2 linked regions of the Homo sapiens genome follow. The protein of the gene in region 2 interacts with the protein of the main gene of each other region in a pairwise test. Each region holds a gene or a part of one and is shown on either strand. Other genes may lie near its edges. The genes, in order: CKMT1A and RXRG.

Evidence for each region.
Region 1: the proteins of RXRG (region 2) and CKMT1A interact in binary tests that used the Homo sapiens proteins (3 or more experiments, as listed by UniProt).

Annotation. Positions count from the first base shown.
Region 1 is NC_000015.10:43,696,578-43,699,743, forward strand, and holds the end of CKMT1A (creatine kinase U-type, mitochondrial isoform 1 precursor), read left to right. Parts: intron 1-1,436; coding exon 1,437-1,571; intron 1,572-2,063; coding exon 2,064-2,189; intron 2,190-2,395; coding exon 2,396-2,512; 3' UTR 2,513-2,645; downstream 2,646-3,166. UniProt on the Homo sapiens protein: Reversibly catalyzes the transfer of phosphate between ATP and various phosphogens (e.g. creatine phosphate).
Region 2 is NC_000001.11:165,407,099-165,414,400, forward strand, and holds part of RXRG (retinoic acid receptor RXR-gamma), read right to left. Parts: intron 4,012-7,302; coding exon 3,851-4,011; intron 3,734-3,850; coding exon 3,604-3,733; intron 2,593-3,603; coding exon 2,460-2,592; intron 1,221-2,459; coding exon 1,129-1,220; intron 1-1,128. UniProt on the Homo sapiens protein: Receptor for retinoic acid. Retinoic acid receptors bind as heterodimers to their target response elements in response to their ligands, all-trans or 9-cis retinoic acid, and regulate gene expression in various biological processes.

The sequences.
Region 1 (3,166 bases), on a different chromosome or scaffold from region 2:
TCAGGAACCTTAGAAAGTGAAGAAGGCAGGTAATGCAAAGAAGGAATAACTGAGATGGCACGTCAGTGCCTGGGATGTGTGCAGTGGGATGGTGAGGTGTGCAGATAAGGAAAACATTCGAGCTTAGATTGATGTTGGCGGGGAGAGGTTGCTGTGTTCATGACTCTAATATAACCACCCAGTTCTGAGACAAGGTAGGCCTTGACTCTGGATTCTATCATTCTTGTTAAAGTATCGGGTCTAGGCTTTAAGTTGAGAGTTCAGAGGGAGACTGGGGAAGGTGGAGGATAGAATGGTTCGAGTTCTAGAATATGTGGCTCTAGATGAGAGGTTGAACTGAATCATCAATCCTACATGGATTGGGTCTCCGTATTCAAGTCTACATTAGAAATCCCCATAAACTCAATTCAATTCTTACTGTATGTTCTCAAACATACAGTTCTATTTTAGGTTTGCAAAGAAAAAGAGCTCCTCTTTTAGATTCTGAGAAGTTTCTACTATTTTTGGCAAGTAATAGATAACATATTCTGACTATGAGTGGGTAGGGAAGTACCTTTAAATTATATGCCTCAGTTTCCTCATCTGTAAAATTGGGATAATGAGATTTTCTACATTTTAGGTTGTTGTGGGGATTAAGTGAAATACAGGTAAAGTACTTGGTCCACAGTAAGTGCTTAATAAGTGTTAAAGTGTTAGCTGCAATATTATTCTGGATGGAAGAGTTTCCCCCCATGTTCAGCACATAAGATATCCCTGGTGGCATGGTTCCTTCTGAACTACAAACAGGATCCCTTTACTCATGTTGGATAGTGGTCTTTGTGATCATCACTCTGCTAGATCCCTTGTCTCTTGAACTCTAATAGTCATCTTCATGACTACATGGTTAATGGAAGCAAAATGCCTTCCCCCTGTCCCCTATTCCTATGAATCTGGCTTTCCTGCTCTGTTTTCATCTTTCTCTGCATTCACACAGGTGCTCCGTTCACAGCTAATAGAACGTTATCTCACCTCTTCCTGGCAAAGCTTACACCTTCATCTTCTGTCTGAAAGGACCCTTCCAAGCTCTAGGCTCATTAGCAAAGCAAAGATAATCGATGCATGCAGACCTCATTGAATAATCAGTCCTCTCTCAGTTCAGTTTACCACCTCTGTTCATTTCCCTAGATCATCCTTAATACACCACGCCTTCGAGTTTTCTTCTTCCACATAAGATATTTTTTCACAATCTCATTATTATGCACATCATAATTTTGCATCATGCATGCATGAAAACAATAACAAACCTTTTTCATTTAAAAAAAGACCAATGTCATTCATTCACAGCCAAGTTTCTATTCTAGACAAATTTCTAGTGTTCTTGTGGGTCTAGCTAAGGGAGGGTCCAGGGTTAATGAAATATCCCTGATTTTTCATTAATAAAAACTTTGTGGACTCAGGTGGAGAGACTTATCCAAGAACGTGGCTGGGAGTTCATGTGGAATGAGCGTTTGGGATACATCTTGACCTGTCCATCTAACCTGGGCACTGGACTTCGGGCAGGAGTGCACATCAAACTGCCCCTGCTAAGCAAAGTAAAGGAGTTGTGGGGTTACAGAGGGGTGTGAGTAAGGAAGGGTGGGTTGTGGATGGGGAGGGAGTGGACCCTTTGGAGAGGAGCCAAACATGTTGTGGCTAAAGGGTCAGAGGACAGGCCAGGCACAGTGGCTCATGCCTCTAATCCCAACACTTGGGAGGCCAAGGCAGGCAGATCATTTGAGCCCAGGAGTTCAAGACCAGCCTGGGCAACCTGGTGAAACCCCATCTCTACTACAAATACAAAAGTTAGCTGGGTGTAGTGGAGGCTGAGGTGAGAGGATCACTTAAGCCTGGGAAGTCGAGGCTTCAGTGAGCTGTGATCACTCCAGCCTGGGTGACAGAGAGAGACCCTGTCTAAAAAAAAAAAAAAAGAAAAAAGGAAAAAAAAAAGTTCAGGAGACAGAGCTCTGAGCAGGTTCAGGGCTCTTTCAGGTAGGACTAGTCTCTGCCTCTATTGACCCTGCTCCCAATCCCTATCTCCTCTCTAGGATAGCCGCTTCCCAAAGATCCTGGAGAACCTAAGACTCCAAAAGCGTGGTACTGGAGGAGTGGACACTGCTGCCACAGGCGGTGTCTTTGATATTTCTAATTTGGACCGACTAGGCAAATCAGAGGTGAGATCCTAAGGGATTAGGATGAGGAGAGGTATAGGTCTGTGGGGGCTGAAATATGGCAGTGAGTGAGCCTCCGGGATGTAACATAATCTGAAATGAAATTCAGGTTGAGTGGGGAGGCAATTGGAAATGAGCAGGCAAGTCAGTCAGTGATAAAGAAAAACTCAGACTGTAGGAAGCAGAGATCAAAGATTAGTGTCCTTCAGGTGGAGCTGGTGCAACTGGTCATCGATGGAGTAAACTATTTGATTGATTGTGAACGGCGTCTGGAGAGAGGCCAGGATATCCGCATCCCCACACCTGTCATCCACACCAAGCATTAACTCCCCATCGCCAGCTGATGACTCAAGATTCCAAGGAGTTCTGCTCATTCTAATGATGGCCCATTCTACTTGCTCTGGACCTGCCCTCGCATCCCCTGCCTCCATCCTAGTAAAGACTCCTTGCTATGCTGCAGCTGTCTGTGTTACTTCTAATGGTGGGGTGAGGAGGGAGCAGCCTTCAGGAAATGAAAAGAGGCAGTGGGATTATTTATGATGGAAAGAGACTCCAGATATGGCAACCCAGGAACACTGATTCTCAGGTGGGTGGAAAGCATTAACATTTTACCCATATTCCTCATCAGCTTCTGAAAATAATCAGGATGCACTTCTGTTTGCACTTTATTCATTATGACTTAAGATTTCTCTCCCCACAATCTCCTTCTACTGTAGAGACAGGCTCATAGCAGGTGGCCAAGGAAGCTGATAGTCAATACCAGGGACCAGGAAGGTCGTGACCAGTCCTGGAGGCCCCAGGCTGTACTTCGACCTATAATAGACAGGGAATGGGAGTAATATCACAACTCAGCTCTCCAGGAGCATTGATACTTGGAAATTAGCGCTCTGCCTGTAGACTCCTTCACTCCAGGGATCTCCCTGGGTGCACTCTAAGAGCCAGACAGCACCAAATTAGGGGTTTGATTCTGGGTCAGGAGA
Region 2 (7,302 bases):
ACTCTTGGGGCAAAGATTTTAAACTCCATGAATAGGCAAATGTACCCACCACTGACTCTAAGGAGGAGAGCTTAATTTTATCCGGACCATTCTCGAAATATTACCTGCACACATTTACCGAGTGCCTATTATGTGCTGAGCATGGACTGAGTCATAAGATGGGGCACGAAAGCTGAATTGGCACATGTCCTGCATTGATGAACTAACTGCCTAATTCTGGAGATAAAGCCTCTGCATGAATGACTACATAATTCTGAAGGTTCATCTTTCTTGACCACAGCAGGGTTTGCTGGAGCTGATCGCCTCCTTCTTGAAAGACTATTTTCCCTCGAGCCTCCAGGACACCACCCTTCTGATTCTGTCCCTATCTCACTGCCTGCCCCTTCTCAGGTTCCTCTGCTGGCTCTCCCTTTTTTACCTGACCTCTAAATGTTGGCATGCCCCAGGGCTCAGTCCCCAGCCATCTTCTCTGCTCTATCTCCCCAGATGATCTCACCCCAGTGTCACAGCCTTACACAGGCAGAGGCTGACAGCTCTCAGATGCACATGGCTTCTCCCATGAAGTCCAGACTCATATGAGCAGTTGCTTCCTGGGCAGCCACTCTTGGATATCTACTACCCATTTCCTATTTTAATGTCCAAAGACAAGATCCCGATTCCTACCCACCCGCTGTCAGAACTTGCTCCTCATGGAGTTTTCCCCATCTCGGTGAATAAGAACTTCATTTTTCCCATTGTTCAGGAAAACAAAACTTAAAAAAAAAAAAACCCAGAGAGTCATCTATAACTCCTTTCTTTCTTTCTCATTCTATATTCAATCCATCAGCAAATCACAGTGGCTTTATCTAGAAATATATCCAGAATGTGATCGCTTTTTACCACCCCCTTCACTGCCACCCTGGGCCACCGTCATCTTTCATCTTCCCCACTTGCCCCAGACACGCGCCTGCCACACTCATTCAAAACATTTTCCAAAATGGCTCTAGCTGACACTGTGAGCTCTCCTGGATTCCTGGCTCTGCCATCTGTGTCTCAGCTGAGATGGAGGACCAATAACATGGGAGCACTGGAGGTTGACCGTGGAAGAGGGCTGAACACACACATCCCCTGGGGTTGAAGGGCGGTTACCTGGGTTAAAGAGTACAATGGCTCGCAGGCATCCCAGTTCCGACTTGTCCATCTGCATGTCTTTCATTTTGGAAACCAGCTCAGTTAGGACTCTGTTAACAGGAAACAAGCAGGTAATGAGAAAACCGTAAGTAACAGGCCAAGAGCCAATAAAATGAATTCAACCAAAATTTTTATAAGCCCACTCTGTTTCCAGATGATGTACCAGTTACTAGGGGTACAGAAATGAAAAAGATGCAACCCCTCATTGCAAGGAGATTACAGTTTAACTAAAGAAACAGACATTAAAAACTAGCAGCAGCACGATGCCCAGGAATATAACTGCCATGAGCAAAGTCCAAGTGGGTTCCAAAGAGGAAGCAATGAACTCCAAGCAGGGAAATGGAAAGGCATCATGGAAGTCTTGGAAATTAGAAACGCAACAGGCACAGCAAGGTAAGGGGATTGCATGTCTAGAAAAACACAGCAGAGGGCAGCATTCAATGAACTGGTAGAAAGGTCCGGTTACCACGAAGGGGGATGAGTCATTCCAAACACCATGTTGGGCTCTACATGGAACATGTGGGAAAGGGCAGGGAAGTAATAGATACAGCTCAGTGGATGTGCACATGACCAAAGAAGACCATTTACGATGGAGGTAGAAAGGGACAACGGGGCCCTGGCATTGGACAGAGAGATTAATTTCAACTTAATTCTCCTCTTTACCAGTTCTCCATCCTCTCACTCTCAAGTCATTAACTACTCATTTTATTCAACTCCTTATCAGATGGCTTAATTTTCCTTTAGTATCATTTAAGGCACAGAATTTCTGTCAGGGTATCCCTGCCTGACGAAGATGGGTTTGCTCCTGCTGCAGGCCTCCTTCTGAGATCATCCAGAGCCCAGCATAAACAGTCCATCTTGCCTGGCCTCTTGAGGACAGATCCTGATCCCTTTCCCATCCTTGGCCCCCAGGATAAACAGTTCACCCTCTCCACCCACAACTTACTAGCTGATGTCAAGATCTAATCTCTCCTTAGGAAATCCATTGGGAGAATAGGTTCTCCCAACTGCCTGGCAACTGTGCTGGCCTCTGAGTGGCTCCATCTTATTGTGATCTCAATCTTTCTTTTAATCTCTCCCTCATTCCCCAGGTTTATAGTTTCATGTGCCTAGTGGTCTCTGCATGGTCATGTGTAGCTAACTGTTTGGGCTGCCCATCCTCCATCCCAGCACTACCCAGAGGTTCATGCCCACGTGAGAATTCATGTATGTACACATGTGTATACACACACACACACACACACACACACACATAATACACACAAATACTGGAAGCAGGAGAGAGACACCTGTCAAAGATGGAGCCGACCCCAGCACTGTGGGCACTGCTCCGGTGGACATGTAAACCCGTGGCCAGAAGGATGCCATCCTGCACGGAAACTGAGCGGTGGGAGAAAGAGGCAATCAGCAATTCATTCCACCCTGCAAGGATAAGGAGGAGGTCTTGAGGGAAAACAGAACACATTCTTTCTTTACTTATAATCACCCAAGGCATGTACTATTATCCCACATAACACAAGCAGAATTGACAATCTAGGGAGGTTAAGAATTAGTTCAAGATGACACAGTTCATTAGCGAAGAAACAAAGGATAAGACTGGGGTCTCCTGACTTATGGCTCTGCACATCCCCCCACTCTCTCTCAGATGCAACCCAGAATGACAGCTTGAAGACAAGGATTCTTTTTTTTTTTAATCAGTCAACAAATGTGGGTTGAACATTTAGCGGATAATAGTCACTATGTTAGCTGCCATGGTGGATAAAGCTAATATACCTTGCAGTTTTTCCCCTTAGGATCTGACAACCTAGTTTTGTTTCTTTGGCATTGTCTAGTAACACCCAACACAGTCTGTAGCTTTCAGCTGACACTCAGTGAGTGCTCATTATCTAACAGGGATGAATGAGTGGACTGGTTCCCAATGCTCAGCCAATCTTCATGAAATTTCCCTGCTGGCTCAGTGACAAAGAGGAGATATGGCATATGTCAACGGCCTGCAAGTGTCCCAGAAATAGGAGGCAAAAGAAAATACAGCACATAGAGTCTTAAAATAGGAAGACAGTGGAACCCGTCTAGTACAAGCTTGAGCAAACATCTTTGGCTTCTTTATCTCACCTATGAAATGGGAATACCTCTATTTGCCAATTTCATTACAATAATGAGCCACTGCTTCAAATTATCCTCAATAAAATGATTTAATAGTCTTTTTAAAATTTATGCAAATTATAAAGCCGTGGTAAAATTTGCATGGGAAAAGAGTCCCACTTCTTCATTAACGATGCTTCCTTTGGGAATGAACAACCCCGCACAGGGTTATTTCATCATCAGCATGGTACATAGCTTGGACATGTTGCAGCTCCATCAGGCTACTTTTTTTAGGATCCCAAGAGCAATTTCAAAATTGTCCCAGGAAAAAAGGCAGCCAATGTGCTTTACCTGCCCGAAGCAAAATGACCTGGTCCTCCAAGGTGAGGTCAGAGAAGTGGGGAATACGCTTGGCCCATTCAACGAGGGTGAAAAGCTGCTTGTCAGCAGCATGACATATGTTGGTAACAGGGTCATTTGTCTGAAAAAGGAACAAAGTACTGTGAGGCACAGGTCCCAGGACTCAAATACACCCCTTTCTCCCATTTCCAGCCCTACCCAAGAAATGGAACACACATGTGTGTCTAAGAGCACATACCGAGTTCTCCATATTCATGTCACCATAGGATTCTGTCTTTGGTTCAACAGCAAGTTCAGCTTCTAGAATCCTCTCCACAGGCATGTCTTCATGACCACTGGTAGCACATTCTGCCTCACTCTCAGCTCGCTCTCGGCTCCTCTGTCTTTCTTCTTGCACAGCTGACATGCAGCAGGACATGCAGAGGTTACCATAATGCCCAGGACAACAGTGGGAAAGTTTATTACCCACATGAGCCTCAATTTACTCATCTATGAAAGGGGAATCATTATGATCCTGAATTGGGGATGTTGGAATGTTGACAGATGAAACAAGGAAAGCAAAGCTGTTTGCTTATGCCTAAGGAGAATGAGGGGTTCTTTAGTGCATATTCTTTCCAATGCATTATGGTGACGACACTAGGAAGTATCCATTTTAAGCTTTAATAAACTCTAATTGTATCCTCTCTTTTAATGGGCCAACCACTCCTTGCTATCCCTGCAGATCCCCACATTCTTGCTCTACCTGCTGCCTCTAAAAAACTGTGAGCATGAAATAGTTAAGTAACAAGCACATTACTTTAAAAACTCCCTCTGTCAGATCCTATGCATCATCCTTGGCATTCACGTCCCATTAGGTCTGCCCCTAGTGCACCAGCTTGAACACAACATCACCTGATCCGACTTGTCAGGGAAGATCTTTAGGGAGCCAGCTGTGGGTATTTAGTAAGTGAAGGGGTGGAGGGATGTCACCTAGATGACATTTCAGAATCAGTGGCTCATTTTGGAGGTTGGGGAGGGTACATAGGCAAAGGTGTAGGCTGAAATTATCTCAGCCTCTCCAAAGCTTAGGGTTTTCATCAAGGTTCAGTGCAACTCTCAGAACCCTCCATGTCTATACATTAGGATTGAAAGCAGACTGCTGCCCCCTCCAATTCTATGCTCTTCATCAGGAGAAAAGTCTCTGTTGGGTTAGTTTCCATCATCTAGAAGGCTGTAGTTTCCATCTTATTCACAGCAGCAATAAACAGAATTCAATATTAGAACACATTTTTTACATCCCCAAAGTCAAGAAAATTATCCTTTAAGCAGGTGACTAGCCTGAAACTCCATGACAGCTACTCCACTAGCAGCTCCTATTTCTGTTTCTCTCCCTTCCTCCCCATAGTCCACTTGCAAGAGTGCCTCCTACTCTCTGAGGAGATAATGAGCCCCAGAGGCTGCAGAATGGACTGGAATCGCAATGCCGAACATCTAGTTTGTCATGCGAGCCATATCAGTCTCTCAAGGTAGGTCAGAGAAGAGTATGACTGCAAAAACACAACTTATGCTCCAAAACTTAGTGGAGATACGCCAAAAAGCTTCAAGACAAGAATGGTACTGTGTCATTGAGAGAGAGGCAAGGAGGGTAGAAAGAAGAAAAGGAATAAGGGAAAGAGACAACAAAACAGGGTGAGAAAAAGAGGAAACAGAAGGGAGAGAGAACAGAGAGGAGAAAATAGTGAAAAGAGGGGAAAAAACCTGTGCCTTGGAGTCAAAGAAAACTTTTTCACATATAACTCTACCCCTTCCTTGCTAAATGGCATTGGCCATATGACTGAGCTTAGTAAGCCCCAGATCCCTTATCTGTGAAGCAGAGATTAACTGAGATAGTTAAGGCTGGTACTTAGTTAAGGTTGGTACTCTTCAGTAGTTAACTGAAATAATATCGTAAGGATGAATGAAGCAATTATAAAAACTCAATACAAATAGTTATTTCCTCTTGCCTTTGGTGTCTTTTTACCCCCTTGGGCTCATCTCTCCATCTCCCTTTTTGGCCTCTTCCTCTCTCTCCTGTTTTCTTCCTCCTTCTGTCTCATCCTTACTTTCTGCTCACTCTGTCAGACTTCATTCACTGACAACATGTAGAAACTATAATATGTATTTTTTATTATATTTGGATTTACTGGGAAATGTTGAATGCTTCTTGTATTAATTTTTTTAAAGGTAGGTTATGAGCTTCTATTTGTCTTGACTTTAAAAGATGAGGGAAAGCAAACTAAGTTAAGTTTCATTCGTGGTCCTCAATCAATGTCTTCTAGAGATTTGTAACACTCAAGGAAAATAACCTTCAAGCTTCAGAGAAAATATCCTTGGTGTCAGGGAATTTGATTCGAATTCTGGTTTTGTATGAGCAAACCCTTTGCTATTCACTTTTCCTCTTTGTGCCTTAAGTCTTCCTGTCATAAATGAGGAGTCATATATTGTTATTGGGGGGTAGCTTCTACTTGTCAGACATTCTGAGCTACTGTTACGACACACATCAGGGTACATCCAGGGAACCCTGGATGATTAAAAATAAAACCAAACTTCTGCCTTAGGAAAGGATTTTAACCATTCATCCAACACGTGTTTATTTCGCACTTATTACAATAGGCAAAATTTATGAAGCTCTTTCTCTGTGTCAGGAATTATGCTCAACATTTTAGATAGATTACATTTCATTTAATCCTCACAATAATGCTCTGACATACTACGAGCCACAGAGAAACTAGTAACATATCTGAGGGCATGTGGTAGGCCATGATGGAGCCAGCACATGCACCCACAATGGCTCCTCCTGGGCCCATCTCTAACCTCTCAGTACTGCCTCCAAGGTACTGGGCTAGGTCTATTAATAAAGACCACACAGGGCTCACAAGGATACCAATGCTGCCCATGAACTGCCTCAAAGGCAATCCATTCACCAGTCTTGAAACTACATGTATATGACAAGAAATCATGGAAATAGACATTCCAGAATTCCTGAGGTGGCCCACTAATCAGAGGGTCCCAGTCCTATACAGGGTCTGCCATGTGCTTGCTGTGTGGGCTTGTGTGGGCTAGGCTCTCCAAACCTCTAATTTGTCTTTCAGGAAATGGACGTGTTACGTTAGAGAATAGAAAATGTCCACTCTAGCTTTAACATTATTTATCCTAAAAGGGCAACAGGTCCTGGCCCCTGATCCCAGGCAGGTAAATTCTGTACCTACCCCAATTCCATCTCTTTATCTGTGTGATTTCCATGGTCTCTCTGTTATCTGCTCCAGGATGTTATTATTCTTGTCCTCAAGAAAGTGTTCAAACTGAGCCCCAAATTCTATAAATCAAGACCAGAAATGATGGCGGTGGACAGGCTATCCAGTAGCCTTTTGAAATGCGCCCCCTTATATAGTCAGCGGAGGAATTGATTCACTTCTTTGCCTTCCCTTTGTCAGGGTAAATGGTGCCAATCTCTTCAGAAAGTTCCCTAAGAGCTCCTTTCCCTCTCCTAATTTTTACTACTCAGCTTTTCACTATTCTTTCTGTTTCTCCACATTCTTTTAAAAAATGCAGGAGCAAAAATTGGGTCCAACTTTCTATTAAAGTACCCAAACCATAGAAGTGTCTCTTACAGTTCACATGTCCCTGTTTTCCTTCCTTTTTTAAAAACATTTAACGAACCACAGTTCCCAA